Linked DNA regions of Homo sapiens: region 1 is linked to region 2. Evidence: fine-mapped expression QTL. Tissue or cell type: whole blood. Region 2 holds a variant in brackets; the other region holds the start of a gene. All regions are shown on one strand. Distances are from middle to middle.

What was found. PIP is the estimated chance that this variant, and not a neighbour inherited with it, causes the effect.
Region 1: it holds the start of NINJ2-AS1, and the variant in region 2 is fine-mapped to the expression of NINJ2-AS1 in whole blood (INTERVAL, PIP above 0.99).

What each region holds. Positions count from the first base shown.
Region 1 is chr12:629,284-632,191 of GRCh38, reverse strand. It overlaps NINJ2-AS1 (NINJ2 antisense RNA 1), which reads right to left and starts at 1,301. Exons shown (of 5, transcript NR_122124.1): 1 at 1,207-1,301. All of the region lies in intron 1 of NINJ2 (ninjurin 2), which reads left to right. RefSeq lists silencers at 1,276-1,375, 1,436-1,515.
Region 2 is chr12:613,141-616,048 of GRCh38, reverse strand. All of the region lies in intron 1 of NINJ2 (ninjurin 2), which reads left to right. Among named protein-coding and RNA genes, the nearest start is that of NINJ2-AS1, 16 kb to the left of the region's middle. The variant G/A (reference allele first, on the strand shown) is at 1,474.

The sequences.
Region 1 (2,908 bases), 16 kb before region 2:
GCTTTACTCAATCTTTTTCCATATCCTGAGCCCGAGTTCAGACTTCATCCTCCCGGGTCCCCCATGTCCCTTCAACGTCTGATTAATTCTCCAGTCAACTCCCTGCTAATAGTCCACCCACAAATTGCTATTTCAGCTGACCTTCCCCAAAACTTGAGCATCCTTACCAAATACCTTGGGCTTCCTCATAACCTGGTTATCTTCTCATCTGCATGCCTTTCTGGAATAATTTTGAAGTATTAAAAAAAACTCCTCTAATTGTCAAGGGCATGCAGGAAGCTCAGCCCCTAAGGAGCATTGCAGAAATCTGGAGTTCTACTCTGTTTATACCTAAATCTAGCCTTCCAGGAGTTTCAGATAGTTTCCTGGAAACATTTTGTGCTTTGTGTTTTTCACCTTTCTCTCTTAATTGAATATGGGGTGAGGAGCAAGAAAGGGGATTGTGAATTACAATTACAAACAGTACACACATAACACAGGGACAATCTTTGCATTTCTCATTTCTGATCCCAGGGATCAGAGGTAGAGGCAGGCCAGGCGCGGTGGCTCACGCCTGTAATCCCAGCACTTTGGAGGCCGAGGCAGGCGGATCACGAGGTCAAGAGATAGAAACCATCCTGGCCAACATGGTGAAACCCCGTCTGTACTAAAAATATAAAAATTAGCTGGGCGTGGTGGCGCGCGCCTGTACTCCCAGCTACTCGGGAGGCTGAGGCAGCAGAATCGCTTGAGCCCGGGAGGCGGAGGTTGCATTGAGCAGAGATCACGCCACTGCACTCCCGCCTGGTGACAGAGGGAGACTCCGTCTCAAAATAAATAAATAAATAAATAAAAATTTAACAAAAAAAGGTAGAGGCAGCTCTCAGGTGAGTAAATTCGCAGATGCCCACGCATGTCTGGAACATACCCCAGGGGTCATTAGAGACTGCCCAGCAGAGGCGGGAGGATCTTCCGTTTGCTTTTCCTTCAGAACGTTTGTCCGGAGAGCATCCTGTTCTGTTATATGCATATCCACCTCCGTCTCCAAATTACTAGGTTGAGCACAGTGCTCAGTGCCTGGCATTGAGTTAGAAATAGAAAATGAGCTGGCGAGTCCCGGCCCGAGGCTGTGACAGGGGCCATTACTGAGCCCACTCCCCACCAACCTTTCTGCGGTTTAACTGACTCTCCTCCTTCCCCTCCAGATCCCAAGGGCTTGACTCCTACCTCCTCTAAGGCATTTTGAAAAGTTTGCAAATGCACCCTTGATCCTAGCACGTACTTAAGAAGCGGCTCCCCCCTAGAACGTCAGGCTTGAAGCTGACCCCTTCTTCCTCCTCCCGCGCCATTTGGGTCTGTGCGCAGGGCCGGAAGCCTGCTGGGGAGGGGCACGAGGCCGGGCTGGGGCCTCTCCGGAGGGAGCCCGCCGCCCCGCCCAGGGCGCACGCACCCAGCCTCTGAGGGAGGAAGCTGAATGGGGCCAGAGGCTGGCCCTCTTTGGGGATTTGCATTATACAGGCTGTATTTAGAAGCAGCGGCGGGGAGCGGTGGCTCACGCCTGTGATCCCAGCATTTTGGGGGGCCGAGGCGGGCAGATCACCTGAGGCCAGGAGTTCGAGACCAGCCTGTCAACATGGTGAAACTCCGTCTGTGCTAAAAATACAAAAAAAATTAGCCAGGCGTGGTGGCCGGAGCCTGCAGTCCCAGCTACTCGGGAGGCTGAGGCAGGAGAATCGCTTGAACCCGGGAGATGGAGCTTGCAGTGAGCCGAGATCACACCACTGCACTCCAGCCTGGGCAACTCAGCGAGACTCCGTCTCAAAAAACAAAACAAAACAAAACAAAACAAAAAACCAAGAAAAAGAGAATAAAAAAAAATAGAAGCAGCTTTCTTGCTGATAGAAAGCAATGACCCTCTCTGCTATAATTACAACTGAAGAGTCACTTTCTTTCAAAAACTCTATTTTCAGATGTTTACCACTTTCTTTAAAAAGGAAAAAAAATTTGCCTCAAAGGCAGGCAGTCCCCAGGGCATTTCTGGTCTCCTGGGGAAGGAACCTAAGAGCGGTTTGGTAAAATTCCATTTTGCTATCTTGGCGTTACCTAAGGGCAAGAACTGAGGTGGGGCTTTGGTGACAGCAGGGGCTGAAGAGTGCTCTTTTTCATCATCCAGGGTGTCCAATTGTTTTGTTTCCCTGGGCCACATTGGAAGAATTGTCTTGCCCCACACATAAAATACAGCAACACTAACAATGGCTGATACACTTTTAAAAAATCGCAAAGAAACTTCATATATATATATATATATATATATATTTTTTTTTTTTTTTTGAGTTTTGCTCTTGTCGCCGAGGCTGGAGTGCAACGGCACGATCTCGGCTCACCACAACCTCTGCCTCCCAGGTTCAAGTGATTCTCCTGCCTCAGTCTCCTGAGTAGCTGGGATTACAGGCATGCGCCACCAGGCCTGGTTAATTTTGCATTTTTAGTAGAGACGAGGTTTCTCCATGTTGGTCAGGCTGGTCTCAAACTCCTGACCTCAGGTGATCCACCTGCCTCGGCCTCCCAAAGTGCTGGGATTACAGGCGTGAGCCACCATGCCCAACCAAGAACTCATAATGTTTTAAGACAATTTACGAATTTGTTTTGGGCCGCGTTCAAAGCCGTCCTGGGCTGCACGGGGCCCACAGGCTGTGGGTTGGACAAGCTTGCTGGACTGTCATGAAGTTTTGAGTAGGTTAATTGCGTGGAGAGACCTGGAAGACAGGATCCTGGGTTGTACTGTACTCTCCCCGCCATTGGACCTGTGCTCCCTCCACCCAGGTGGCATCGCAGTGGCCAATGGAGAACAGAGCCAGACTGCCTCGGTGCAAATCCCAGGCTCCTAGTCCTGTGGACCACTTACTCCTTCGGTGAACTTGGGAAGCTG
Region 2 (2,908 bases):
TATCAGCTTTCTCTAACTACTATACCTCTGGCCCATTACAAGTACTGCTTTCTGCAGCCCCTCACCCTAGCTAAAACCCCCTGGAATGATATTCTAGCTCTCCGAGAGTGTGCCTCACTTTTCCTTTCAGCCCTTTCCTCTCAGACACTTCCTACATCAACACAACTGCTCTGCCAATTGTAGGATTTTCCCTTGCTTGTCAGATGACCCTGAAAAGGGCATGTGAAGTCGTGTGAGGCACATTTCCTGTGCTTGGGATGCATGCAGCCCACAGGATGACAGTCCCACACATAGCCCTCTAATAGCCCATGGTACGTGCTGTACTAGTGGAGTGAAGCAAATGCTTTGGGAGAACTGAGAAAGAGGGATAAATTTAGCCGATAGGAGCTGAGGAAGGCTTCCCAAGGGCTGTGGCAGTGGAGCTGGGCTTTGAAGGGTGAGCAGAGTTTCTTTTTTTTTAAGATGGAGTTTCGCTCTTGTCGCCCGGGGCTAGAGTGCAATGGTGTGATCTCGGCTCACTGCAACCTCCGGCTCCCAGGTTCAAGCAATTCTCCTGCCTCAGCCTCCCAAGTAGTTGGGATTACAGGCATGCGCCACTACGCCCGGCTAATTTTTTATTTTTGGTAGAGACGGGATTTCTCTGTGTTGGTCAGGCTGGTCTTGAACTCCTGACCTCAGGTGATCCACCTGCCTCGGCCTCCCAAAGTGCTGGGATTACAGGCATGAGCCAGAGTTTCTTAGTAGAGAAAAGAACGAGAAGGAGATCTAGCCTTTGGAAAAGCTGTCAGTCATTTAAAAAAATCATGCTCCTCTTGGTAAATATAAGGTGTTCTCATTTAGCACCCTGATTGCTGAGATTTGGATGTAGCTTCCTAATGGGGCGTGCATATCTCCTTTGAGAGTCACTCATTTATCAGAGCTGAAAGATGACTGTAGGTTATTATTTCTATAATCCATAATGAAATCAGAGAGTCCTCCCCTACCTTACACATTCACACAAACCGCTCTCCCGACTCTTCAGAGAGACCATGGGAGTGCAGAATCCTCCTGTGGCTGGTGTCAGGGACGTGGGCTTGTGCGCTAAATGGAAGCAGTTAAGACCTCAAGCCTGCATCTTTTGAGCTCGGGACCACAGCCTCCATGAGCCAGCAGCTTCCTTGTCTTTGCATAACTGCTATTTGTTTTTCATAGAGCGCTGACAATGCACGCTGCCCGACGTGTGAAGACATGGTCTTGCCCCTAGGCCTCTGGGAACCTGAGCTAGACAGACACTCAGCTCTGGGTGCAAACACAGCTCAAAAAACAGGCAGGCCGAGCCCTGAGGTGTCAAGCCTTTGTTCCCTTCTTTGGAGGAAAAAAAAATGAGCTAACTAAGTGACTTCTCTGGATAAGAGGGAAGCAGGAATCCTCTTAGAGCACAGGTACTAAAGAACGTCTAGGCATGGAGGAGGAAGACATGTAGAGAGGCAAGTA[G/A]GGAATGCAAGGGGAAGAAGACAGAGGGAGGGAGCCAGGCCCGGCAGGACTGTGAGGGAAGAGTGCCATCTGCTGAGCCCCCCGTGGGCACACAGGCACACCGCCACCCCCACCCCACCATGTCCCCTGGGCATGAAGCTCACGCACAGATGATCATCTAGATTCCATCTCCAAACATTTTGTTCTGCCACCACCCAACGACCCAGACTTATGTTCTCCCAAGACCAAGTCCCTGGACCTACACACAGTCCTCTCCCTCATGCAGTCTAGAATATTCAGCCGAATGCAAGAAGTCATGAGGTATAAACCACAGTGGGATTAGTAACTTCCCAATACCCATGGACCCAAACCAAGCTGAGCAGGTGCCTGTGGAGAAGGCTGGAAAGTCAAGGCAGCAACCATCGCTAAGGATGGTCTTCTTTAGGAGGCAGTAGGACATCGTGTAAGAGACTGTTCTTACTAGCCACGTGCTATGGACAAGCTGCTTGGCCTTTCTCCACCCCACATGCCTGTGGCTTCTGGAAGGGCTTAAATGAATAGCACCTGGAAAGAAAATGCCAGTGTGGGGCCTGGCACATGGTGGAGGTACCATCATTGCTCCTTCCAGAGAAGAAAGGCCATTTTTAATTAATTAATTAATTTATTTATTTAATTTATTATTATTATTTTTTGAGACAAAGTCTCACTCTGTCACCCGGGCTGGAGTGCAGTGGCGCGATCTCGGCTCACTGCAAGCTCCATCTCCTGGGTTCACGCCATTCTCCTGCCTCAGCCTCCTGAGTAGCTGGGACTACAGGCGCCCGCCACCACGCCCGGCTAATTTTTTGAATTTTTAGTAGAGACGGGGTTTCACCGTATTAGCCAGGATGGTCTTGATCTCCTGACCTCGTGATCTGCCCGCCTCAGCCTCCCAAAGTGCTGGGATTACAGGCGTGAGCCACCGCGCCCGGCCTATTTATTTATTTTTGAGACAGAGTCTCGTTCTGTCTCCTAGTCTGGAGTGTAATGTCGCAATCTTGGCTCACTGCAACCTCTGCCTCCTAAGTTCAAGCAATTCTCCTGCCTCAGCCTCCCAAGTAGCTGGGATTACAGGTGCCTGCCACTATGCCCAGCTAATTTTTTGTACTTTTAGTAGAGATGGGGTTTCACCATATTGGCTAGGCTAGTCTTGAACTCCTGACCTCAGGTGATCCACCTGCCTCAGCCTACAAAAGTGCTGGGATTATAGGCATGAGCCACCGCCCCCAGCCCATTTATTATTTAAAATGCGTGATGAGATTTAGAATTATAGAGAAAGACCCAGAAAAAGGAGAAAAGGATACATTTTCATTTTTCTTAGGAGCCGCAGATATGCTTGATTTGACATAGCTGTCACAGGGATTTTGCTCATTAGCATGGGGAAACTATTCCTAGTGTGTCAGAGCACCCCCAGATT